7 linked regions of the Homo sapiens genome follow. The protein of the gene in region 1 purifies or fractionates together with the protein of each later gene. This does not show direct contact. Each region holds a gene or a part of one and is shown on either strand. Other genes may lie near its edges. The genes, in order: CLEC16A, SETMAR, UBE3C, SRR, DSG2, CTSB and SDF4.

Region 1 (4,094 bases):
AATCGGAGGTATACAAGGCAGTGTAGTATGTATGTGCGTACTTTTTACAGATGAAAAATACGAGCCCAGGGATCCTACATTTCTGAGCCTGGGTGTGTTTCTTTGGAGGCCAGATCCTGTTCTTTTTTGCTCCATGACTTTGTCTTGCCCCACTCTATATGAATTACAGGACAAACCATTAACTCTCCACTCTTATCCATTTCTCCAACTGCTGAAGGTGAAACAAACCTTTACTCATTCATGCACTCTACCAATATTTGTTAAACACCTGCTATGTGCCAAACCTTGTGCTAGGCACTGGGGAGAACATTGGCCTCTGGCCCAGTTCTTTCTTGAGCAGAGTTAATGGGACACAGTGGACCTTTAATAAGGTTGATATGTAGAAGTGACTGAATGAATGAATGGATGGTAAACTTGAGAAGTCTTGCCCACACTGAACTTACCACTTCTAATCCAGGGTAGAAGTTAGATATATTCTGGCTCATGCAGAAAGTTGGGTGTTTCCTTTTTCATTTTAACGTGGTACTTTGGGAAATAGCATGGATTCTGGCTGAAGACCAGAGGAATCCTCTGGAAGTACAAAATGTTCAGTTTGGTGCATTGTTGCATCCAGCCTTTTCCAACACACACACACACACACACACACACACACACACACACACACACACACACACACACTTAATTGAAGTGGAAAAAGAAAAAGGCTGTCAGGACAAATAAGGTTGTTATCTAGTGCCGTTTTGGTTTATAAAGGGAATGAAAAATAAGGGTGCGTGCGTGGTTATGAACCCTGGTTTTGCCACTTGTTAACTGCATGATCTTGGGTAAGTCAACCTCTCAGTGACTCCGTTTCCCTGATGATAAAATAGGTTCGATAATAGTACCCAATTCATAGGATGGTTGTGAAAATTAAATACCTTAATATGTAAAGCCCTTAGGATAGTGGCTTTGCATAGTATACACCATCCAATACTATTCTTATTCTTATTATAAATCTAGTAATTGTTACTACAGTGGTGACTTTCCTTGACCCATCTACGCCGATTCCCTCTCCGGGACTGCGCCCAAAGCTTCCAATTCCCGCCCACCCGGAGGATTCTGCGGTCGCTCCTCCTCTCGCCCCGCCTTTTGTGGATGGCCGTAGGCCCGCGGTTGCACGATGCATGCCGGGCCTTGTAGTCCGTTCGCGGAGTCCTGCCGCCGAAGGCCACGCGGGTGAACTGCATTTCCCAGCGCCCCACGCGGCGGCGGCCGTAAAGCGCGGCGGTCGAACGGCCGGTTCCGGCTGAATGTCAGTGCTGGGCTGTGGGCCGGGGAGGAAGGCGGCTCGCGGTTCCTCCACCGCCTCCGCCGCCGCATCCTCCGCTTGTGCTACCGCCGCGGGCGCTGGGCCGCTCTGCTGGTCCGGCATGAGACCGTGAGACGAGAGACGGGTCGGGGCCGCCGACATGTTTGGCCGCTCGCGGAGCTGGGTGGGCGGGGGCCATGGCAAGACTTCCCGCAACATCCACTCCTTGGACCACCTCAAGTGAGTGTGGGGGGCGTAGCGGGAGGCCTCGGGGCTGGACAGGGGGACGGGGCGCCGAGCTCCGGGTCGGGGCTCTAGGAGGCGTGAGAGCGGCGGCGAAGGGCGCCCGGGGAAGCCCGTGTGGTGGTTAAGAGCGAGGGCTCGGGAGTCAGGGCGCCTGGGTTCGAACCCTGACCCCGTCGCTCTTGGCTGTGTGACCTTGGACAAGTCGCTTAATTTCTCAGAGTCTCCGTATCCCCACCTGTAAAGCGAGAGGATGCGATTTCAGTTTATGGACACAGACTTTGTTCTTGACGGTGTCCACCAAGTTTCCTGGCGGGGTACTTCTTAAACTGAACAGCTTAGAGGGTCAAAGGCCTGGGTCCTGGAGTCGGGCAGATCTGGGTCCGAATCTATCTGTGTGAATGTAGGCCTCAGGTTCCCCACTTGTAAAAAGAGTAGAGTGACAGCACCTGCTTCCTGCTATTGTGTTGAGAGTTGGTTGGATAAGAGAATGAACGTTAAGCTCAGAACACGTACAATTGCTCATTAAACGGCATTAATTATTATAAAAGAACAGATTATTTTCCGAGGGGAGTCTAAGCTGGGGGCATGCACGCTGAGACCCAGGATTTTGGGGCGATTGGGGAGGATGATGAAAAATAGAGACCTCTGAGGAGGGAATGACTCTACAGCTCTGGGGGAGGACAGGTGGCAGATAGGGTCTTGGGACCAGGAGTGCAGAAATTAAGAGGCTGGCTTTGCAGCCACACCTGCGTTCAAATCCTGAAACCACCATTTACTGGCTGTGTGACCTTGGGCAAATTACTTCACCTCTCTGAGCCTCCAGATTCCCATTTGCAAATGGGGATCGTGAACATTGTAATGGAAATGGAAGGTGACTGACCCAGTAGGTACATAGTAGGTGGCCAGTAGTGGTAGCTGTGTTTATTATCAGCTCAGCGAGGCCTTCCCAGACCACCCTACCTAACGTGCTCCCCCCATCCCAGTTCCTATCCATCACATCTTTCTCTTGCTTTCATTGAGTGCTTCTCCACTCTCTGCGATTATTCTTTATTTTTTATTTATACTTATTTTCTGTCTTCTGTTAAACTGGCACTTCACGAGGGCACAGACTGCTTGGTTTGTTCACAGTTGTATTCCCAGCATCTAGGACTGCTCTCTGCTTACTTAAAGAGTGGAAAAATGAATGATTGAATTGGGGAGAGATGAAGAGCATGCAGGCCAGGACCCAGGATTTGGGGGCAGGTGTGGAGGATGATGAAAAATAGAGATCTGTATGAAGGGAAAGGCTTTAGGGAGGGAAATGGCGGGGATGCTGAAGAGGGGAGTAGACAAATCTTCAGTGTCAAGAAATAGGCAGGTTTCCAGAAGGAGATCCTGAGACTACTAATGGGAAAGGAGGAAGATAGGGTTAGGGATATGGTGGGAAGTAGTGGAAGGGAGACGGGGCTGTGGAAAGGATTGGTGGGAGGGAATTAGATAGGGACTTCTCATGTGTCCCCGGGAGTGGGGTAGGGGTAGTGGCAGGGCCACAGTTCTCAGCTGTGACCTTTCTAGCATGGAGCAGCATTTAGTAAACGTTTGTGAGTCTTGAAGAGTGGGGAGCAGGAGGGTTCACTATGTGGTGAGGGGCACTTTTAGAGCAGGAGGTGGTGAGAGAAGACAAGGGGAGGAAAGAGGCCCAGGACAAGTCTGGGGTGGGTAGGGAGGTGGGGATCTTAGATGGGAGGGCAGCTGGCCGGGAAAGGGAGTGGTTGAAGGATTTCAGGAATTTATCGAGTGGGCGGAGGTGGCTGAGGAGGGGAGGGGAGTTATCCAGAGGAGGTTGGGCCTCCTGCCGGCATCCAGGTACCTCCAGGTTCTCACCTAACTCTGCTTAACTCTAGCCCTTTTAAATTACCTTAATTTATTAATTTATCGAATGCATTATTCTGTACCAGGTATTTGCTAAGGACTGCCTGTGTGTTAATTCCCTTAGTCCTCACAAGTCTGAGTTACAGGAACCATTATTGTTTCCATTTTACGGAAGTGGAAACTAAGGTTCAGGGGGCTTCAGTGACTTGCCCCCAGGTGTCAGCAGCTGAAGGGTACCAGAGGCAGGATTTGACTCCCGAGCTTGTGCTCATTATACTGTCTTTCTGAATAAAACTTCCCAATAAGTCTGTTTGAGAACACTTTTGACTTGGCTGAGTCTCATCGCCAATGGGGCATCTTTGCCAGCCAGCAGGGAATGGTAAACGGTCTCTGGTTCCTTTGCAGTATCCTGGGAACTGCCTGGGTTCATTGTTTAGATCACATGTCTATCGGATGCTTCTTTGGAAACCCAAGTTGCCTGCCCTGAATCAGGCAGATCAGCTTAATCCATATTACAGCCCCAAGAACCTGAGATTTGTGTATTGGTGGGGGGGTTAGAAGATCCCCCAGTGACTTGGAAAAGAGTTTTGTAAACAGCCAGTGCCCACCCTGGGGCTTGTGCCACTCTGCATTTGGCTCTGTTGGTAAACATCTTGGGTCTTGGGTACAGAACAGCTCGTTCCCTGAGGGAGTTTGCAGGCTGGTGGGG
Region 2 (4,274 bases), on another chromosome or scaffold:
GAAGCCATGGGAGTGGATGTTATTAATGAGAAAGTTCAGGGAAGGGGAGCAAAGAAAAAGGTCAAGGGCAGAACCCTGAATCACACCCACTTTTCAGAAACAGTCAGGCAGGAAAACAACAAGAGGATACTAACAAGGAAAGGTCTGCAAGATGGAAACACATTTAGGCCAATGGGACCTCAGAAGCTGCAAGGTCAGAAGGGTTTGTGAACCCAAAATTATCTGAGACAGGTCTCAATTTAGAAAGTTTATTTTCCCAAGCTTAAGAATGCGCCCCCAACATAGCCTCAGGCAGTCCTGATGACATGTGCCCAAGGTGGTTGGGATACAGCTTACTCTCACACATTTTAGGGAGACATAATACATCAATCAATACATGTAAGATTGGTTGGATCTGGAAAGGCAGACAACGAGAAGCGGGTGAGGGGTGGCTTCCAGGTCATAGGTAGATTTAAAGATTTTCTGATTGGCAACTGGTTATTATCTAAAGACCTAAAATCAATAGAAACGAATGTCTGGGTTGCAATAAGAGGTTGTGGATACCAAATTTGATCGTGGAGATGAAGCCTCCAAGAGGTAAATTTCAGAGAACAGATTGTAAATGTTTCTTATCAGACTTAAGGTGTGTGTTGATGTTGATGCTGGCTGGCTTTTCCTGAATTCCAAAAGGAAGAAGGGCATAATGAGGCATGTTGGACCCCCCTTCCCATCATGGCCTGAACCACTTTCTCAGGTTAACCTTGGCAGAGAGGAGGGGTCCCTTCAGATGGTTTGGAGGATTGGAATTTTATTTTTGGTTTACAGTTTCAAGGAGAAGCAGGACAATCATGTCAGAGAGCTTCAGTGAGGTTGAAAATGCTCCACCGGATTCAGCAGTCTTGAGGCTATCAGAATCCTTTGGCAGGGCAGGGGTTTGGAGGGGTGAGGGTAGAGGGATGGAGAGGAGGGAAAAGGACAGGCAAAGGGGCACGGATACCTCCATCAGGGAGTGAGCATGCCCCCACACAAATTCCTTAAGGCACCCTGTGAGGCTATCGCCTTGGCACAAACCCTATCACATGTCAGTCAACTTCCCGGCAAGCCGCAGACCTTTAGAAACCTTGGTGTGCGTTTCCCCGCTCGGTTTAGAACGCACCCCTGCCTCCACTCCACAAACGTGCAGTGAGCCCTCAAAAACCTGGACAAATGACCTCACCTCGAAAGCCCCCTCTCTGATGCTCCCAGGAAAAACTAAAGCACCTCACTTTGTTTCGTCCGTACCTTACATGGTTTTGTAATTATCTGTGGTGCCTCTGGCTGAAATCAAAACGGGAGCCAGACCCAAAAAGTCAAGGAAGGGAAGCGCCTTCCAGGCCACTCCTGAGAAGAAACGAACTACAATTCCCATGAGGCGGTGGGGCCACGGGACCACAAGTCCCAGCATCCACCGCGCGGCCCAGGACTGTCAGGGTAGTGGGCGTTGCGTGAGGCGGGTAAATGTTCGCGGAAGCGGCAAAGACGACACGGCCTTGTGGGATGGCGGAGTTTAAGGAGAAGCCTGAGGCCCCGACTGAGCAGCTGGATGTCGCGTGCGGCCAGGAAAACTTGCCGGTGGGCGCGTGGCCCCCGGGGGCCGCGCCGGCGCCCTTCCAGGTAGGGGCGGGGCCAGGCGGCGCGGGAGGCGGGCGCGCGGCTCCCCCACGTGGTCTCCTCAAGCCGCCTCGCTGGGACGGCCTCCCAGTCGCGACCTTTTGTCTTCTCTTACAGCGCACCCGTTGGTGCGCGGGAATAGGTGTGCATGCCCCGGCCTGGGCCTTTTTCTGTTGACCCACGGCATCACCTTAGCAAGGGTGTTGTCCTTTTCAGTCCATTCCCTGAAGCGCAGAACCGGAGGCCTTGTGAGAACCTGGCTTTTTGTCCAGTCCTGTCCTCAGAACTCAAGGAGGCATCACGGGGGGAGTCATTTACCTCCCTGGTCTCAGGTGTCTCTCACAGGTAGGATAAGCCGTGGGGCCTATTAATGGATCGCAGCCGGTGTCGTGCATAAAAACAGCCCCTCGAGTCAGCCTTAGCTGTGGTCTCCCTCACGCTGTGGGCTCTTGGGCGAGTGTAAATTAGCTGTGGCTCAGCCTTAGAGTCTTCCAGCGTACAGTGGAACAGTACCTCTCTTCCGGAGTGCTTTGAAAATGGCAAGGAAAATACACTTTCCGGTTTGCTGTAAGAACTCAGTAAATGTTTGCTTCTATTAACTACCTCAAAGCCCTTTCTACTCTCCTTTTTCTTTTTGAGACTGAGTCTCGCTCTGTCGCCCAGGCTGGAGTGCACTGGCGCGATCTCGGCCCACCGCAACCTCCACCTCCCGGGTTCAAGCGATTCTCCTGCCTCAGCCTCCCGAGTAGCTGGGATTACAGGCATGGGCCACCACGCCCGGCTAATTTTTGTATTTTTAGTAGAGACAGGGTTTCTCCATGTTGGTCAGGCTGGTCTCGAACTCCCAACCTCAGGTGATCCGCCCGCCTCGGCCTCCCAAAATGCTGGGATTACAGGCATGAGCCACGCTCCCAGCCTCTACTGACTTTCTTATCCCTCCGACCTTGGCCTGAGCGTTACCCAAGGAATAAGGAATGACCAAAGATTTTGAAGTGGAAAGAGCGCTGGACGTGGAAGTTGGAGAGTATGGTTCGGAGCTTAGACATCTTAGCTACTTCCCAGAGCCTGAGTTTCTTCATCTGCAAAATGAAAATAATAATTTAAAAATGCATAGCCCCTTTAACATCCATTATCAACAATGAACCCTATCTGCCCTTTCTTTTTCCTAGGGGTTTTTGTGAGGATCAGATAAGATAAGAGATTCAATAGCAGCTTTCAAAGATGTCAAGGAAAAGAATCAAACTCTAAAATATTTGAAGAGATTTATTCTGAGCCAAATATGAGTGACCATGGCCTGTGACACAGCCCTCAGGAGATGCTGAGAACATGTGTCCCAGGTGGTTAGGGCACAGCCTGGTTTTATACATGTTTGGGAGAGAGGAGACGTCAATCAAATACATTTAACATGTACATGGGTTTGGTTCAGAAGGCGGGGCAACTCAAAGTGGTGGGGGGGGCTTCCAGACTATAGGTAGATTTTAATTTTTCTGGTTAACAATTTTTCTGGTTAACAATTGGTTGAGTTTGTCTGAAGACCTGGGATCAATAGAAATGTTTAGGTTAAGATAAAGGGTTTTTTTTTGAGACGGAGCTTGACTCCATCACCCAGGCTAGAGTGTGGTGGTGCGATCAGCTCACTGCAACCTCCGCCTCCCAGGTTCAAGCGATTCTTCCACCTCAGCTTCCCGAGTAGCTGGAATTACAGGCGCCTACAACCACGCCCAGCTGATTTTTGTATTTTTAGTAGAGACAGGGTTTTACCATGTTGCCCAGGCTGGTCTCAAACTCCTGACCTCAAGTGATCCACCCACCTGGGCCTCCCAAAGTGCTGGGATTACAGACGTGAGCCACCGCACCCGGCCATGTAGAGACCCAAGTTTTAATTGTGGGGAGGAGACTCCCAGCTGACTTCAGAGGGAGCAGGTTGTAAAATGTTTCTTATCTAACTTAAAAAGGTGCCTCGGTCTTAGTTGATTATCTCCTTGTTGTGGAAAGAAAGAAAAAGAGGGGGAAAGGGGATTCTCTATAGAATGTGGATTTTTCCCACAAGAGACAACCCTCCAGGGCAATTTCAAGATATGGCAAGGAAATATATTTGGGGTTAAAATATTTTGATTTCTTCCCTTATTTGTTATTTGATGTTATGCCAGAGTCAGGTAGAAAGCAGACCATGCTATATAGGGTTAAAATTAAAACTCCTCTGATGAGACTTTATGGTTTGTAAGGCATGACTCCCCAGGTGCCTTGGGTAGGAATTTGGGCAAGATAAGAAAAAATCAGAGTTTAGTCCTCAAAGAGTAGAATAAGATATTAATGTCAGAAATTATTATTGTTCCCCAGACTACCTTTGGCAATTTATAGTTAATAATACAGTTAGCTGGCCCAATATTAAACAGTGGTCCCTGAAAACTTAGGACTAAGCATTGCTGAGTTCCTGGTCAAAAACACTGATTTAAAAAACCACTGTTCTAGTCCATTCTTAATTCAACAAATATTTATTGAGAGCTAAATATATGCAAGGTGGTGGGTTGGGCTGCAAAGAATACAACAAACAGAAAAACGCACTCTACCCTCAAGGTGTTTACAACTGTCACGATTAGCTTCAATATTCCTGCCGTGCGTGTGTGTGTGCGTTTGAGACTATT
Region 3 (3,500 bases), on another chromosome or scaffold:
TAATACTCTTGTGCTGGGTCCTAGATGATACGCATGTTCAGCTGTTGTGCACACCGCTGCCACAGTTTCCCCGTGTCGCACGCCCACAGCATCTGAAGGTATCCAGGTTTCCACATCCTTGCCAACACTTGATATTGCAAGTCCTTTAATTTTAGTGAGGATGTAGTTTCTTTGTGGTTTTAATTTTGTTTCCTGACAACTAATTATGTTGAGCACCTACATATGCTTGTTTTCCTGAATTCTCTTTGACTGCCGCATAAGTCCCTTCCCTTGTTGGAAAAATGAAGTTATAGTGACCCTTTTCTCATGTCTTAAATTATTATTTGAAATCTTCCCTTTCTGGAGCTTAGTGGAAAATGGAGTGGTTACCACCTTTGAATAAGCTTTTTCTTTTTTCAAATTAAATACTTTTAGTATTTATTATTTGTATAGATCTGTGTACGACAAGTCTGACTTGAAGAAGTTGATAATCTTGTTGGGCAGATAAGACTTAAGCAATTAAAAATTAAATAACAATAGAGTAATTGCTACATTCTAAATTTCCCTTGGTCCTGATTCAGAAAAAGTAGAATTGTTTGGAGCTTAGTCCTGAAGGATGGGTGTAATTAGGATGGGTGGAAGACGAGAAGGCATTCCAGGTTCGTGGAGCGGGGTGTGTGGAGTACATGTAGATTGGATTACATTGATTCAAAGTCACTTTGGGGAGCTAAACATTGATTACACATGGACATAAAGATGGGATGATAGACACCAGGGACTACTAGAGGGGGAAAGAGAGGGACGGGGACAAGGGCTGGGAAGCTACCTGTTGGTAACTGTGCTCACTCCCCGGGTAATGGGATCATTCACACCCCAAACCTCCGCGTCCTGCAGTATATTCTTGTAACAAACGTGCATAGGTACCCCCTAACTCTAAAATAAAAGTTGAATTTTTTTTTTTTTTTTGAGATGGAGTTTCGCTCACGCTGGAGCGCAGTGTTGCCCAGGCTGGAGTGCAATGGTGCGATCTCAGCTCACCACAAACCTCCACCTCCCGGGTTCAAGCGATTCTCCTGCCTCAGCTTCCCGGGTAGCTGGGATTACAGGCCTGCACCACCACGTCTGGCTAATTTTGTATTTTTAGTAGAGATGGGGTTTCTCCATGTCGGTCGGGCGGGTCTCGAACTCCCGACCTCAGGTGATCCGCCTGCCTCAGCCTCCCAAAGTGCTGGGATTACAGGTATGAGCCACTGCGCTCAGCCTGAAATTTTTTTTTAAGTCACACTGATTTCTATCTTTAAATATTTCTGACATCGGGATACACACTGATAGCATGATGCAGTTTAATTGGGGGTATGTTTTTCTTGGTAGTGTATAGAAGAATATCACGGGGTCATCTGATTTCAAGTACAGAAATGGACTAAAACTAGCTTAGTAGGCAAAACAAAAAGAAACAAAAACAAGTTTATGAAAGGATAGGCGTGTCTGACAGAATAGAAAGGTCAGAAACACCCAGATAGCAGGTATCACCACCACAGGAGTTGCTTGTCTTTCTCCAGGAGCTGGGTGCACTCCCTTCTTCCTGTCTCCTTCATTCCTGGCTCTGCAGACTGGCTTTCTCCATTTCTCACACATGGTTTCCTAGCTTAAGCGTCAAGAAAGTTTGATCATAATTACCAGTTTTCAGGAGAGGAAAGTCTGATTGGCCTGGGTCATGTTTCCACCTGATAACCTCAGTCTGAGGAGGGCTTGGAGGCTTGGTTCAGATGGAACAGTCTAGGTGCACCTGAGGGCTGGGGTAGATTCTTCAAGAAGCGGGGAGTGGTCGTTGACTGAATGCCTGAGTTCCTGTGGGACAGGCACAGGAAGGAGTCTAGGCTAGAGATGCAGATTTGGGGGTTATCAACAGAATGGTGGCTTCGAACACAGGTCCTTAAGAGGACTTGGAGTTTGGGACAGGGTGGGACTCGTGAGGTACTGCAACATTTAATATGTGTGGGAGTTGGGGATACTTACAAAAGAGTCACACCTCCGGGAGTGGAGGAGAGTGGTGTCCAGGGAGTGAATCTCAGGGAGGGAGGAGTGACAGGCAATGCCAAGTGCTGCACAGACACAGTGAGTCCACTGACTGCGGAGCTGGGAAGAATTGGGTGATTTGAGCATATTCTGTAGGGTAGTCAGAGTTGGAAGTCAAGAGCATAGCACATTGGAGAGTGAATGGGAAGTCACAAACAGGGCCGAACACAGGCCGGATGCTGTGGCGCACGCCTACAATCTGCCACACCGAAGACTGAGGCGGGAGGATCGCTGGATCCCGGGAGTTCAAGGCTGCAGTGAGCTGTGATCATGCCATAGCACTCCAGCCTAGGCGACACAGCATGACCCCATCTCTTAAAAAATAAGGCAGGGGCAAGGCAACAGTGTAGACCTTTTTTGAAAAGCACCGGAAGATTGGATGATAGAGGGAAATTCGGTGTCTCGGAAATAGTTTTGTCTGTTTTGGGAGACGGGGGAAACTTAAGTTTATAGACTGGGAAGGACGGGGGTTAAAAATGTGGGGAAGACAGGAGTGGCATAACTTTCAGAGTCTTCGAGAATACCCGAGAGGGGAGAACTGAGTGGGAGCAGGCAATGGGAAATATTTTGAGACTTAAAGAAGCTAGGGATGAATATGGATATAGAAAAGTTTGTAGACCGGAGGAACTGAAATTTTTTAAGTTTTTGTAGATCTGACAATAGTGGGAGTAGAATTAAGATCACTTTAATGTTTGTCCAGTGCTTTTTTTAAAAAAAAATAGACTTTATTTTTTAGAGCAGTTTCAGGTTTACAATCAAGCAGAGGGTAGGGTTCCCATATGCCTAGTCTCCCTCACCTCACTTTTCTCTATTACTAGCATCTGGCATTAATGTGGATCATCAGTTACAATTGATAAACCAATGTCGATGTGTTATTATTAATTGAAGTCCATAGTGTACATTCAGGTTCACACTGTGTGTTGTGCATTGTGTAGGTTTTGACGAATATATGATGACATGTATCTACCCTTACAGCGTTATACAGAAGAGTGTCATTGCCCTAGAAATCCTCATTGCTGGCCAGGTGTGGTGGCTAATGCCTGTAATCCCAGCACTTTAGGAGGCCGAGGTAGGCAGTCAGGAGTTTGAGACCAGCCTGGCCAACGTGGTGAAACCCCGTCACTACTAAAAATACAAAAAATTAGCTGGGCGTGGGAGGCTGAGGCAGGAGAATTACTTGAGCCCTGGAGGTGGAGGTTGCAGTGAGCCTGGATTGTGCCAGCGCATTCCAGCCTGGGTGACAGAGCATGACTCTGTCTCCAAAAAAAAGAAAAAAGGAGGAGGCCCGGCACTTTGGAAGGCCAAGGAGGGTGTATCACCTGGAGTCAAGAGTTCGAGACCAGCCTGGTCAACATGGTGATACTCTATCTCTACTAAAAATACAAAAATTAGCCAGGCGTGGTGACAGGTGCCTGTAATTGCAGCTACTCAGGAGGCTGAGGCAG
Region 4 (4,019 bases), on another chromosome or scaffold:
GGTAGGTTCATGAAGTATCCACAAAGATAAAGCAGTTTAACCCAAGAATAGCTCACCCTCGGCAGTCTGTAACTTGGTGGGGGGCGGGGGGATGGGGAAAGCTATTCCTACTACTTTCTAGAGCAGCGGGAGAAAATAGCCTTAATAATCCAATTATGTTAATCAACAAAAACCAATTTCACAGACTGGCCGCAAACCTAGAGAAGGCACCTATCACAGCTACCATTCTACACAACTCTATTGCCTAACGCAGGAGAGGTGAGACACTTAGAATCTTTCTTACTTTCCTGACGTGGCTGGAGACTTGAAATTAACTTGCAAATTGAGCATTCTCTCTAATAAAAACTGCTCCCACACATGCCAGGGCCAAACCCGAGTAGTCTGAGGTCCCGGATCCCTCCAGTGGCGCAGCTTTCGGAAGCCTGTCTTGGGGGGGAAAAGTTCAGCAACGAAGTCGCAGGCTCTTAAACCTTTCTCCCCAATTCCTTCTCTCCGACGTTAAAGCGGTGGCCGGGGCAGGCCCGCGGAGGGCGGCCTGGAGAGCGATACGCCCGGGGCCTCCACCAGACCCCACTCCTTTCCGCGTCTCCCGATGCCTGGGAATCCGGGGCGGGTCTGAGAGGGCTGGGGCAAAAGGAACAGTCACCTTCGCGGCGAGAAAGAGGGTGGAGGCAGGAATTCGGGCCAGGCTCTCCCGGAGCTGGCCAGGACTGGCCGAGCCCGACCCCGCACTAACCCGCGAGAGAGGTAGGGCAGCGAGGGTCCGCCGCGGCCCCAGCGCCTACTGCTGGGGGAAGGGGCGGGGGCTCCGGAGCCGAGGGCCGAGCGGGGAGGAGGCAGAGGAGGAGGAGAGGGAGGCGGGGCGGGCAGGCCCGGCCCAGGAGCTGGGCGGCGCGACTCACCTCTGCTCCCGGCCTGCGGGGCCAGAGTAGCCAGGATCCCGCGCAGCTCCGACGCGGAGATCCGCACACGCTCCAGCCCTTCCGCCATCTTCGCGGCTGCTGCTACAGCCGTAGCGGCTCCGCCACCGCCGCGCGCAGCCAGGAAACCACCACAGACGGGCGGCGCGCGCGCTCGCCCACCTCCCGGCCTTTCCCCGCCCCCTGCCGCCCTCCCTTTCCGAACGACGGTGGCCGCGCTGGGAGGAAAAGCGCCCGCCGCCGGTTCCAGAGGGGCGGGACCGGAGCGAGAGCCTGGGTGGGGCGGGCGGGCGCTGCGCGTGCGCAGAGGTGCGGCCGGGGAGGCGCGCGGAGGCTGGAGCTGGAGGCGCGGCGCCGGTGAGCTGAGGTGAGGCGAGGCCGGGCCGTGCCAGGCCAGGCGGGCGTTTGCGGCGGTGGCTGCCGTTGCTGTTGTCGTGGACACCAAGGACACTGCTAGTCTGGGACTCGGGTTGACAGAGACACCCCTCAGCCTGGGCTCCTCTGGACACCTTAGGCCAGGCTCTCCCGCCACAGGCCCGGCCTAGCGCCGCGGGCCATTACTTGGGACCTTGAAGATCTGCTAAGAGTAGTTGTTACTATTCCCTTTTTTTTTTAGTTGGAGTCTCGCTCTGTTGGAGACTCCCGGGCTGGAGTGCAGTGGCGCGGTCTCGGCTCACTGCAACCTCTGCCTCCTGGATTCAAGCGATTCTCCTGCCTCAGCCTCCCTAGTAGCTGGGATTACAGGTGCACGCCACCAAGCCCGGCTAATTTTTGTATTTTTTGTAGAGACGGGGTTTCACTAGGCTGGTCTCGAACTCCTGACCTCAGGTGATCCACCCGCGTCGGCCTCCCAAAGTGCTGGGATTACAGGCGTGAGCCACCGCGCCCGGCCGCCCCCTGACTTTTAAAAACTAGATACGATATAGTTGGAATCGTGTGGAAGGAAGTACATCAGGAGGCATATAAGTCCATTTGGGACCTGTAATCCCGGCGACTCGGAACGCTGAGACGGGCGGATCGCTTGAACCCGGGAGGCGGAGACTGCAGTGAGCCGAGATCGCGCCACTGCACTCCAGCCCGGGAGTCTCCAACAGAGCGAGACTCCGCCTCAAAAAAAAAAAAAAGTCAATTTGGGAATTTCTGTGTCACTATGGATTCTTGAAAAAAATTACTGCTGTGGATCTCAGGTTGACTTTTTAATTTCCCATCTTTAAAATTGAACTATACCAGAAGGCTGGTACTTGAATCTTTTTTTGGAGAACTGTACAGAGGTGAAGCTCCCTTCCCCAAGGCCTCCTGCCTCCACCTGTTGCCCCTCCACAGCCCCATAGGCTTTTACCCCACACCCATCACAGAATAGTTACCAATTATTCCTTAGTCTGAGCCGAAGGGATTGCCACAACCTCTGACAGAACTCCTTCAGTTCCTTTTACGTGACACTTTGTCACCGGAAGGTTAAGCATAAGAAGAAAGTCAGTAGATGATGGGTGAAAAGATCCAACAGTTCAGAAGAGGAACCATTTGAGTGGTCAGAGCAGAAGACAGCCTTTGCCACCAGATTTGAGAGAAATAGGAAGAAGCGTTAAAAAATAATCTGTTTCATATTGAAATTTGAGAGGCCATTGCATGATTTCTTTTTTCAGCTGGAAAAATAATGGAAAACAAGAAAACTTTCTTAGGACAAATGGCACCACCCATTTAATGCAACAGTGTCAGTGAACTGCAGATTAGATATGCCAAAAGTTAAACCAGTTCAAGAAAATTTACCAGAACTCAGAAGGAAAAGGTAATAGATAAAAACTGAGAGACAAAGATAGGAGACATGGAGAAGGGGTACAAAAAATTAATAATTAAATACGAGTTCCAGAAGGGGATAATACAGCTGACTGCAGAAGAGCAATAATCAAATAGTAGAAGAAAATTTACTACGTTGGTGGAAATTTTTGAATTATCAGATTTAAAGAATTCATGAAATACCAGGTAAAAAGAAATGACAAGAAAGACAACCATATTTAAGTCAGTATCACAATGAAAGCTGCTGAGATTTTTTGTTTTTCGTTTTTTTTGAGACGGAGTTTCACTCTTGTTGCCCAGGCTGGAGTGCAGTGGCACAATCTTGGCTCACTGCAACCTGCCTCCTGGTTTCAAGCAATTCTCTTGCCTCAGCCTCCTGAGTAGCTGGTATTACAGGCGCCCACCACCATGCCCAGCTAATTTTTTGTATTTTTAGTAGAGATGGGGTTTCACCATGTTGACCAGTCTGGTCTCGAACTCCTGACCTCAGGTGATCCACCCGCCTCAACCTCCTAAAGTGCTGGGATTACAGGCGTGAGCCACCGCGCCCAGCCTTGAATTCAGTTTCTAAAAGTAAAAATTGTACAAGTTGGCCGGGCGCGGTGGCTCACGCCTGTAATCCCAGCACTTTGGGAGGCCGAGGTGGGCAGATTGCCTGAGCTCAGGAGTTCCCAACCAGCTTGGGCAAGATGAAACCCCATCTCTACTAAAATACAAAAAAATTAGCTGGGTGTGGTGGCGGGCACCTGTAGTCCCAGCTACTTGGGACGCTCAGGCAGGAGAACTGCTTGAACCTGGGAGGCAGAGGTTGCAGCGAGCCGAGATTGCTCCACTGCACTCCAGCCTGGGCGACAGAGTGAGACTCCGTCAAAAAAAAAAATTGTACAGGTCATATTTACTTAGCACAAAGTAATAAAACTAGAAGTGAATAGCCACAAATGAAGCAAAACATTCTAACCATTTGGAATTTTTTTAAAAACAACAATTTTAGGCCAGGCCCCGTGGCTCATGCCTGTAATCCCAGCACTTTGGGAGGCCAAGGTGGGCAGATCACTTGAGGTCAGGAGTTCGAGACCAGCCTGGCCAACATGGCGAAACCCCGTCTCTACTAAAAATACAAAAACTAGCCGGGCGTGGTGGTGGGTGCCTGTAATCCCAGCTACTTGGGAGACTGAGGCAGGAGAATCACTTGAACCAAGGAGGTAGAGGCTGCAGTGAGCCGAGATCACGCCACTGCACTCCAGCCTGGGTGACAGATAGAGACTCTGTCTCAAAAATAAAACAAAACAAACACTTTCCACCCAT
Region 5 (3,500 bases), on another chromosome or scaffold:
GCAGGCTCCAGAGATACGATTCTATAGGAAATTTTCGAATTCAGGGTATTGGGCTCATCTGCATCTGTTGCATTGATTTTCATCACAAGAGTATCTGGCATTAGAAATAAAGATGTCTAAGATGAAATTCAACTTTAAGCATATTTACCTGTTATTTTATTTATAATTTTAGCTTGTTCCAAAAAAGATTTCAGGTGCTTATCAAAATCACATACAGTTGACCACAATATAACATTTAACTGGATGAGGACATAAGCGTGAATGGGATATAACAATAGTAAAAACAAGATGAAGGCAAGGCTGAGGGTAGAGTCCTGAAAAATTGCTGTATAAGGGCACAGATTTGTTTATAATAGTATTAGTAGCCAATACAAAGAAAGTAACATGAGCAGGTACATGATCCTGATATCTATTAAGATACAAACAAATCAGGAGAAGCGTAACTATTCCTTACATCATGGTCAAAAAGAAATCTCTCATTCGGGTCCTCATGAAGAGCACTGTGTTGAACAATGTTGTGAATAAATATTACAGTAAAAATAATACAACTTACAGGTCAGCAAACTATAGCCAAAGCTGTAGGGCCAAAGCTAACCAGCCACCTGTTTTTGTAAATGAAGTTTTATTGGACCACAGCTAGGCTCATTTGTTTACATATTGTCTATGGTGCTTTCCTGCAGATAGCAGAGTTGAGTAGTTGCTACAGAGACCTTATCCATCACATTAATCTACCCTATCTGTTCTGAGGGTAAAAGCAATGGCATGTAAAGTCCTTTAAACCTATAAGGAAAGCAGTTCTGAACTGCTTTCTTATCATTTGTTCTGTAGGTAATACTCAACTTTCATTAAGATATGAAATTTAGTGTTTATTTACAGTGGGGATAAAGTAATCTTAGGTATTTATTTATTAAAAAAAAAAAAAAAGACTCTTACGTGCTGCACTCAACTCTTCAACAGACCCAACAAAGACATCCTGTGTGAACACTGGTTCGTTGTCATTGATATCAAGAACCTTAATGCGTAGCTCTAAGGGTTTCTCTACATTGTTTCCTCTTGCATCCAAAGCGTAACCTGTTAGCTGAAATCATGACATAAATAAGATTAGATTTAAGCTAAGAAAACTAAATTACCATACTATGAAAAAATAAAACAAATGACACTTATTATGACAGAAAAACTACAAACTAATAAATCTAAAATTATTCTTCTTACCAGAAAAAATGGTGTTTCTTCTCGATCAAGAATGCTGGTAACATTCAGTTCTCCAGTATCTTTGTTAAAGACAAATATACCAAAAGGTGGCTCTGTAATCCCTTTTCCAGTGTATTTGTAAGTAATTTTGAGTCCTCTTTCTTCTGCAAGATCAGAATGTATCTAACATAAAAATAACAGGAATGTTTCAGGTTGAACTCTCTGTAATTTACTAGATTTGATCTTAGCCAAAAGCCTAAGAAGTGATTCTCTATAATTTACAGGTAAATATTTTTATGGACAATTTCCTTCTGAAGTTCTTTGGTAATACAGGCCAGAGATGACATGACTTGGACTAGGGGAATGGCAGTGGAGTTGAAGAGAAGCAGCAGATTTGGAATATATTTTTGGAATAGAACTGATAGTGTGTGGTACATTTTTGGCTTGAAAAACTGGAGAGAATTATAGCATCAATTACCAAAATGGGTAGAACTTATGAAGAAAAGCTTTGGGGGGAAAAAAATGAAGGGTTTATGTTTGTGCATGCCAACTTTGAAATATAGAGTAGCAACACTATCACATAATTTATCAAAAAAATTGGACCCCTTGAGAGTGAAAACACAGATATTAATTATTAAGCCAGGAGAGCAGGCATAAACCACGACTGTCTCAGGCAGATGAAGATGGTCCCCCTACCTAGTAATAGACACCAGTTCATCTTGAAAATGACATTTTATGACATCCTCTTTTGAGCACTGAACATTTTGTGTTACCAGTGCCAAATCCCTTTACTCTTAGTTAAATCAAAACTCAAAGTTATCTATATTTTTGCCAATGATGCTGCATCTTCCGGAATGGGAAAGAGAATCTTAAAGTTGATACTTTATGCTAAAAAGTAAGCTCTGCTAATTTTCAGATATATCTTGAATATTTAAAAATTCTGTAAGCACATCATACATTTTCCTTAAATCTTAAAGTAGACATAAAAGTCCTCTCACACCACATTTTAGTCATATGCATGTATTTCATGTTCCTCTTTAGGAGGTACCTTGGCAATTGGATTCTTCTTGGACAGATCCTCTCCCTCCCGAAGAGCCACGGGGGCGGTGATCCAGGCGCGCTTTTGCCGCACTAAATGAGGATGTTTAGGAAGCAGCTTATTTTCATTTCTTGTGCTTAAGACCTATAACAATAGAATATTGCCAAAATTTATTATGTGTCATAAATATAGAACATTAGTATGCTGTCCTATAACATAATAAACTTTTAAATAGTGCAAATTTTAAGGTATGCTTCGTATTTCCTATGAGGCTTCATTGTCTAAAAGGGAATATATATATTCTAGCAAACTGCATAGGGCCTCAAGAGATTGTCTCCAAGCTAGTAAAAGTGTAGGGTTTTTTCTGGTTTATTTTTTCTTTTGAGACAGGGTCTTGCTTTGTCACCCAGGCTGGAGTGCAGTGGCATGATCTTGGCTCACTGTAGCCTTGACTTCCCCGGATCAAGCCATCTTCCTGCCTCAGCCTCCTAAGAAGCTGGGATTACAGGCATGCACCACCACATCTGGCTAATTTTTGTATTTTTAGTAGCTATGGGGTTTCACCATGTTGCCTAAGCTGGCCTTGAACTCCTAGACTCAAGCCTCAAGCAATCCGCCCGCCTCAGTCTCCCAAAGTGCTGGGATTACAAGTGTGAGCCACTGTGCCCAGACAGTAGAATTTTGTTTTTAACTGTAAGAAATGATTTCCCAGAGTGAGAGTTTGAAAAGTTTAAAGAATCATTTAGTAGCCTTACAAATTGGCAAAGTAAAAAATAACAGATCATGTCAAAAACGTTTTTTCTTATTAACTGAAAATGAAGTTTCATTTTTCTGTGGTGGTTTGTGGTTTAAAAATAAATTACTAAATGTTTTTTAAGGCTAAATCTTAGTAATCTATTGATATAAACTTGACTAAAACCAGGGAAACTGCCAGTTAATGAATTTATTGTTTTCAGGATTGGGTAAAGAATTAAATTTCCCATTTCATTTTCAGAACCTTAGGCAGAAAACCATTCTATAAATTTCCAGTTGGGTTTTACAGGTGAATATATATTTTATCCAAGGGAAATTTCAATACAGCTGACCTGGGATCTTAAGATCAGAAATAATCCTTATACTAGGTTTGGTTTATCATTTTACTCATTTTGTTGCTCTATGTAATAGGTATTTTACTTCAAAATATGTACTCTGGTTATCACTAGGTCATTGATTTTTTTTTTTACTTGAACAAAATTTTCTATGACAAAAAATTGAAATTACTTTTTCATTT
Region 6 (3,500 bases), on another chromosome or scaffold:
CCAGGTTCTTAGCCTCCCAAGTAGCTGGGATTACAGGTGTGCGCCACCACACGCACCTAATTTCTGTATTTTTAGTAGAGATGGGGTTTTACCATGTTAGCCAGGCTGGTCTCGAACTCCTGACCTCAGGTGATCCACTGGCCTCAGCCTCCCAAAGTGCTGGGATTACAGGTGTGAGCCACCGCACCCAGCCAGTGGAAAAGAGCTCTGACGGGAGCCCAGCCCTCTGGGGCAGCACATGTGTCGTAAAATGCTGGGTGATGCTCATCAGCACAGCACCCAACGGACCACTCAGAAGCACATCCTCCGTGGAGGAATCAGCGTTACCTAGGTGAGGCCAGAGAGGAAACAGGACAGTGCTTGTACAAGTGGCTGCCTGAAGTCTGAATCTTCACACTGGACTCCTCACACACAAAAAGTACCACATGCAACACAGAATTGTTTTGTTTTTTTGAGACGGAGTCTTACTCTGTCCCCCAGGCTGGAGTGCAATGGCATGATCTCGGCTCACTGCAACCTCTGCCTCCTGGGTTCAAGCTATTCTCCTACCTCAGCTTCCCGAGCAGCGGGATTACAGGCATGTGCCATCATGCCCAGCTAATTTTCATATTTTTAGTAAAGACAGGGTTTCACCATTTTGGCCAGGCTGGTCTCGAACGCCTGACCTCGTGATCCACCTGACTCAGCCTCCCAAAGTGCTGCGATGACAGGCGTGAGGCACCGCACCAGGCCCACAGATCTTAATTTAAAAAGTTTTATGAAAAAAATCAATGCCCTTTGAAAAACAGGCTGGGTGCGGTGGCTGATGCCTATAATCCCAGTACTTTGGGAGGCCAAGGCAAGTGGATCACTTGAGGCCAGGTGTTCAACACCAGCCTGGACAACATTGTGAGACCCCATCAATATAGAAAATAAAGTTTTTTAAAAAGGTAATGCTGGAGGAAAGCTTAGGATTGACAGGAAACACAGCCTTCAAGGGAAAATGCTTGCATTACACTGAAAAGTCTCTTTAAAACAAAAACTGACGAAACAAAGCAGTACTCACATATACTTTAGGCTTCGTTTCCACAAAAGGCTCTTCAAAGTCAGAAAAATGGAACCAGCATAATAGAAAAACTACAAATGGCCAACACAGATAAAAATAAGTTCAACCGGCATGGTGGCTCAAGCTTGTAATCTCAGCACTTTGGGAGGCTGAGGCAGGTGGATCGCCTGAGGTCAGGAGTTTGAGACCAGCCTGGCCAACATGGTGAAACCCCGTCTCCACTAAAAATACAAAAATTACCCAGGTGTGGTGGCAGGTGCCTGTAATCGCAGCTACTTGGGAGGCTGAGACAGGAGAATTGCTTCAACTCACTTGAACCCAGGAGGTGGAGATTGCAGTGAGCCAAGATTTCACCACTGCATTCCTGCCTGGGTGACAGTGAGACTCTGCCTCAAAAATAAAATAAAATAAAGTAAAATAAGTTCAACCTCAGGGAGGTGCAGATAAAATCAAGGAGGTATTCAGCATGTATCAGATTGGCAAGGGCTGGACAGTTTGGCACTTCTTGCAGGGCTTAGGAAGTGGGGAAACGGAAGGCATGATAATGAGTGCCTGGGGTGGGTGGGCACAACCACCGAGACATCAACCAGCAACGCCCACCAGTTTCTAAATCTGCATGTCCTGGAAATGAATCAAGTATCCAATAACAGAGTAACTGTTAAATTACGGTAAGTGGTTAAATAGAATATGAAGCAACCATTAAAAAAGCAATTAGTTGGTGGGGCACGGTGGCGCATGCCTGTAGCCGAGGCGGTTGGATCACCTGAGGTCAGGAGTTAGAGACCAGCCTGACTAAGGTGGTGAAACCCTGTATCTACTAAATACAAAAAATTAGCCAGGCGTGGTGGCGCATGCCTGTAATCCCAGCTACTTGGGAGGCTGAGGCAGTAGAATCACTTGAACCCAGGAGGCAGAGGCTGCACTCCAGCCTGGACGACAGATTGAGACTTCATCTAAAAATAATAATAATAAAATAAAAGTAAAAAACCAACTAGTTGAAGTGAATTCTATTGTATTAACAGAGTAAAAATGCCCCAAGTCCCAATGTTAAGTGGGGAAAAAGCAAGCTGTGGGTGACTGAGGACCATAAGCATCTGACCCTCTCAGCAATCTACACATGTAGGAACACTCCTGCCACTACATGCAAAATGCCAAGGAAGATGCACGGCAGTCGGTCACTACGGTGGGGAGACTTTTTTTCACAACATACCCTTACTTTTAAGAAAAAAAAAAAAGTGAGTATGTTCCTATTATTTCAGTTTTGTTTCTTCTAGGAAAAATAGTTGGCAGTATTACTAAAGGCCCTGAGCCACCAAACTGATAAAAGGACATTTGTTTTAATGATTCCTCAGAGCATTTCCAATTTGGTCTTCCTTCCCACCAATGAGGCTTCCTCCCTAGTGACTTTGAGATGGGAGTCTCGCTCTGTGGCACATGCTGGAGTACAGTGGCGCAATCTTGGCTCACTGAAACCTCTACCTCCCAGGTTCAAGTGATTCTTGTGCCTCAGCCTCCTGAGTAGCTGGGATTACAGGCCTGTGCTACCACGTTTGGCTAATTTTTGTAGTATAGTCCGTGTTTCGTTATGTTGGCCAGGCTGGTCTTGAACTCCTGGCTTCAAGGGATCTAACTGCCTCAGCTTCCCAAAGTGCTAGGATTACAGGCATGAGCCACTGGACCTGGCCCCTAGTGACTTTCTTAATAATCTTCCCCTTTTCCGTGACTCGTGGGTAGGCAGCGTCTCACGTGGCCATGCATGTCAGTGACCCACACAGCCTCCACACTGTGAGGTTAGCATGTCTCGTGGGCAGACAGCAGTGTCCTTGGATGTACCCGGGGGCTTTGTGCTGTAGAGATGTTATTTTAAATAATAAGCCAAGTCGAGGATGGGAGCGTTTCCATGGCAACTTGAATTTTAAAACCAAGATTTCTTTGGTTACTGTGGTGGCTGAGAACACAGGCAGCTGCCATGTCCAGTGGCTCTCAACTCCTGGAGGACAACCTGCCGTGGCCATTCCCTGGAGTCCCACAGGGCCCCCTCGCCACTTCACTAGCAGGCGACTTCCCTGCACCCGCCCTCCTTTTCATGGTTCCCAGGCCCTCCCACACCTCCCTGTGCTCCCTACTCATTCCCAGGCTCCCCGGGGCCACCGCTGCCAGCCCCAGGGCCCAGCCCATTCCACTAGTCCCAGGCTGAGCGCTGGGAAGTTCTTTCAGCCCCGCACCTTGGCCCAGGGCTGTGGTGTTCCTGGCTTCTCTGCTCCTCCCCTATGGTATCCAGGTTGGGGCTCAAGGGGCCGCCAGCGTGCTGCAACCGGACGATAAAATGAGCCCTGCACTTGGAGTCAGGAGACCTGCATTTGGATCTGGCTCTGCCACTGACTAAATGGCACCCTTGGGGTCTGACCTTCCCCAAGCCTCAGTTTCACCACCTATAAAATGGAGCTAGTAACCA
Region 7 (2,786 bases), on another chromosome or scaffold:
GGGCAGGGGGGGGTCCAGGCTGTCTTGGGGAGTCCGGGCTGTGTGGAGGGGTCCAAGCTATGCCTTTGGGGATCAGGCCTGTGGGAGGCTCTGGGTTATGTCTTGGCGGGGGTCCAGGCTGTGTCTTAGGGGCTGGGCCATGTTCTGGGGACGTGTGAATCCTGGAGGGTGGGGCCCCGGTCTCGCGGGTGGCTGTGTCCCTCGAGTTCAGGCAGCACCTCTCGGAACTTTCTGGATTTGCGTGCTGGCGTCTGTCGGCCTCGATACCCACAGGCTGCGCCCCTCTCAGCACAGGAAGTCCTGGAGAACCTGAAGGACCGCTGGTACCAGGCGGACAGCCCCCCTGCAGACCTGCTGCTGACGGAGGAGGAGTTCCTGTCGTTCCTCCACCCCGAGCACAGCCGGGGAATGCTCAGGTTCATGGTGAAGGAGATCGTCCGGGACCTGGGTGAGGCTGGGTCCAGCCTGGCCGGCACGCCAGGACCCAGGACCGACTGGCAGGGGCCGGGCATCGTCGGGAGGTCGGGGCAGGTCCTGCGGGAGCCCCAGCCTGGGTGTGGGCTGACCCATTCCCGTCTCGCAGACCAGGACGGTGACAAGCAGCTCTCTGTGCCCGAGTTCATCTCCCTGCCCGTGGGCACCGTGGAGAACCAGCAGGGCCAGGACATTGACGACAACTGGGTGAAAGACAGAAAAAAGGAGTTTGAGGAGCTCATTGACTCCAACCACGACGGCATCGTGACCGCCGAGGAGCTGGAGGTGAGCCCTGGCGCAGCCGTGTCCCGGAGCCGGCCCTGCGAGGTGCTGTGGCGGGAGGGGCTGGTGGATCTGGGCCTGAGGCAGGAAGCTGTGCTGGTGTCTGGCCTGAGACTCCATCTGGGCTGGTCACTGGGGCGTTTGCTCAGCGGTGTCCACCAGGCTGCATGGCCGTTGTTGGCGTTTAGGTTCAGACGGATCAGAGACAGGCGAGCCTGGCCGGGCTCCATCCTCAGCCCCTTGCGGAGGCGTCAGGGTTCTCACAGCCCCTTTTTAACGGGACCACAAGGGGAAGCTCATGCTGGGCCCAGCATGGAGGCAGGTCCAAGGCCCAGCAGGTGCAGGTGGGCGGGGCGGCCTGTGCCACATGGCTGGAATTTACCACCTTCCTCTGAAGCGTTTTCACTGGTATCATGTGTAGGCTTGTTTTTCTCCCACTGCTGAGTGAGTCATCTTGTTTTTATGTAGAATCCTGTGATTCCTGGCGACAGCCAGTGGGCCCGGCCCAGGTTAGGGATCCTTCAGAACTGGGGTCCAGGCCTGTGTAGCCCCTGTGCCCCGTTACCCCTGCTGGCCCCGGGCAGGCCTTCCGGGGCCCCCGGCTTCTCCCTGCCCTGTGTTTTCATTTGTGCCGCCTCCCTTCGGGAACCTTCCAGAACGTGCCCACACTCCCGCTGCAGCCAATAGGCACCTTAAATAGCCACTTCGTGCGGCTGGCCGCGGAGCTCGGAGGGGGAAAGGCGACGCTGACCTGTGCCCCGCTCGCCCGCAGAGCTACATGGACCCCATGAACGAGTACAACGCGCTGAACGAGGCCAAGCAGATGATCGCCGTCGCCGACGAGAACCAGAACCACCACCTGGAGCCCGAGGAGGTGCTCAAGTACAGCGAGTTCTTCACGGGCAGCAAGCTGGTGGACTACGCGCGCAGCGTGCACGAGGAGTTTTGAGCGCCCGGCCGCGCCCCGCGCCGCCCCCCACGCACCACCGGGGCGGCCTCGCGGGTGACTCCGGGCTCCGTGGCTGTCCCGGACCCCACCTCTTCCCTGCCGCCCGCCACCGGCCGACCGACCGCGGCTGCCCCAGTTGATGAGCGGCGTGTCCCCTCTGCAGCGCGCACCCCGGCGGGGCTTTGGCTGTGACGCGGTCGGGGCGCGGGGCTGGGCTGTGGCCCCGCGGCGCCGCCTCCTCCCTGGTCCCTCGAAATCGTGGCATCTCACTTCTGAGAACGAAATCTCGCTTCAGTCACTCTGCCGAAGGCGCTGACGGCATCGCGGCCGGAACCTCTGGGCCCGGCCCCTCCCAGGGCCGCCGCTCCGTGGGAAAAAACAGCTCCTCCATTTCCTTGAAAACTGAACGATTATTAAAAATAGATTAAACTTCGCTGGAAATGAGTAGCCAGGAAGTTCAGGGGAGGGTGCCGGGTCCTTCCCGGGCCTGGCGTGTCGGAGCCACCCAGGTCCCGCAGCTGCCGCTGAGAAAATGCAAATATTTGTTGTGACAAGAATCACATACATTTACTTTAAATATAGTTGCCTTTTTTGGTCAGCTTCATTCTTTGGGCGTGAAACAAAACACAACAGCAGCGTGCTAGGTTTGTGGTTACAGTTTCCACTGGAGCGCTGGAGGCTGGTGCTGGGTCACGTGGAGGGTTGGAGGTCATGGCCGGTTCGAGGTGATTCTCCTGGCAGGTGGCAACGGGCAGGGGCTCTGGGAGGACGGAGGGCAGCGCTGCGTTTGTGAGTAGGGGTCAGGGGGCAGCAGACGTGCCCACTGAGTTTGGGGTTTGGACATTTAAGGCAGGAGACAGAGCCGCCTGGGGGTTTTGGGTGGAGGATGGCAAGGTCTTTGGGTGCAGTGGGGCAGGCCTAGCCCCAGATGGGGCAGAGAATGGGGTGTGTTAGGACGGCTGGTGGGGGTCCTGCTCTGTGGCGTGTGGGGGCCCAGGCTGTGTCCTGGCTCTCCCAGTGGGAGCTCAGGGAAGCCGGGAGTGTGTCCTCTTCAGTCTGCCCTGTGGTGCCCATGTGACCG

Evidence for each region.
Region 2: the proteins of CLEC16A (region 1) and SETMAR purify together in Homo sapiens (affinity purification with mass spectrometry, with the first as the bait; one study listed by BioGRID). This does not show direct contact.
Region 3: the proteins of CLEC16A (region 1) and UBE3C purify together in Homo sapiens (affinity purification with mass spectrometry, with the first as the bait; one study listed by BioGRID). This does not show direct contact.
Region 4: the proteins of CLEC16A (region 1) and SRR purify together in Homo sapiens (affinity purification with mass spectrometry, with the first as the bait; one study listed by BioGRID). This does not show direct contact.
Region 5: the proteins of CLEC16A (region 1) and DSG2 purify together in Homo sapiens (affinity purification with mass spectrometry, with the first as the bait; one study listed by BioGRID). This does not show direct contact.
Region 6: the proteins of CLEC16A (region 1) and CTSB purify together in Homo sapiens (affinity purification with mass spectrometry, with the first as the bait; one study listed by BioGRID). This does not show direct contact.
Region 7: the proteins of CLEC16A (region 1) and SDF4 purify together in Homo sapiens (affinity purification with mass spectrometry, with the first as the bait; one study listed by BioGRID). This does not show direct contact.

Annotation. Positions count from the first base shown.
Region 1 is NC_000016.10:10,943,270-10,947,363, forward strand, and holds the start of CLEC16A (protein CLEC16A), read left to right. Parts: upstream 1-1,294; 5' UTR 1,295-1,448; coding exon 1,449-1,528; intron 1,529-4,094. UniProt on the Homo sapiens protein: Regulator of mitophagy through the upstream regulation of the RNF41/NRDP1-PRKN pathway. Mitophagy is a selective form of autophagy necessary for mitochondrial quality control.
Region 2 is NC_000003.12:4,301,895-4,306,168, forward strand, and holds the start of SETMAR (histone-lysine N-methyltransferase SETMAR), read left to right. Parts: upstream 1-1,474; 5' UTR 1,475-1,476; coding exon 1,477-1,632; exon of another isoform or gene 1,633-1,777; coding exon of another isoform or gene 1,778-1,974; exon of another isoform or gene 1,975-2,585; coding exon of another isoform or gene 2,586-2,708; intron 2,709-4,274. UniProt on the Homo sapiens protein: Protein derived from the fusion of a methylase with the transposase of an Hsmar1 transposon that plays a role in DNA double-strand break repair, stalled replication fork restart and DNA integration.
Region 3 is NC_000007.14:157,141,926-157,145,425, forward strand, and holds part of UBE3C (ubiquitin-protein ligase E3C), read left to right. Parts: intron 1-3,500. UniProt on the Homo sapiens protein: E3 ubiquitin-protein ligase that specifically catalyzes 'Lys-29'- and 'Lys-48'-linked polyubiquitin chains.
Region 4 is NC_000017.11:2,302,731-2,306,749, forward strand, and holds the start of SRR (serine racemase), read left to right. Parts: upstream 1-1,219; 5' UTR 1,220-1,287; intron 1,288-3,746; exon of another isoform or gene 3,747-4,019. Other genes in the region: SMG6 (telomerase-binding protein EST1A), read right to left, coding at 903-990. UniProt on the Homo sapiens protein: Catalyzes the synthesis of D-serine from L-serine. D-serine is a key coagonist with glutamate at NMDA receptors. Has dehydratase activity towards both L-serine and D-serine.
Region 5 is NC_000018.10:31,518,677-31,522,176, reverse strand, and holds part of DSG2 (desmoglein-2 preproprotein), read right to left. Parts: intron 2,375-3,500; coding exon 2,240-2,374; intron 1,375-2,239; coding exon 1,213-1,374; intron 1,079-1,212; coding exon 934-1,078; intron 95-933; coding exon 1-94.
Region 6 is NC_000008.11:11,854,588-11,858,087, forward strand, and holds part of CTSB (cathepsin B isoform 1 preproprotein), read right to left. Parts: intron 3,354-3,500; exon of another isoform or gene 3,271-3,353; intron 1-3,270. UniProt on the Homo sapiens protein: Thiol protease which is believed to participate in intracellular degradation and turnover of proteins. Cleaves matrix extracellular phosphoglycoprotein MEPE. Involved in the solubilization of cross-linked TG/thyroglobulin in the thyroid follicle lumen.
Region 7 is NC_000001.11:1,216,431-1,219,216, reverse strand, and holds the end of SDF4 (45 kDa calcium-binding protein isoform 2 precursor), read left to right. Parts: exon of another isoform or gene 1-283; intron 284-289; coding exon 290-448; intron 449-583; coding exon 584-759; intron 760-1,412; coding exon of another isoform or gene 1,413-1,528; coding exon 1,529-1,705; 3' UTR 1,706-2,286; downstream 2,287-2,786. UniProt on the Homo sapiens protein: May regulate calcium-dependent activities in the endoplasmic reticulum lumen or post-ER compartment. Isoform 5 may be involved in the exocytosis of zymogens by pancreatic acini.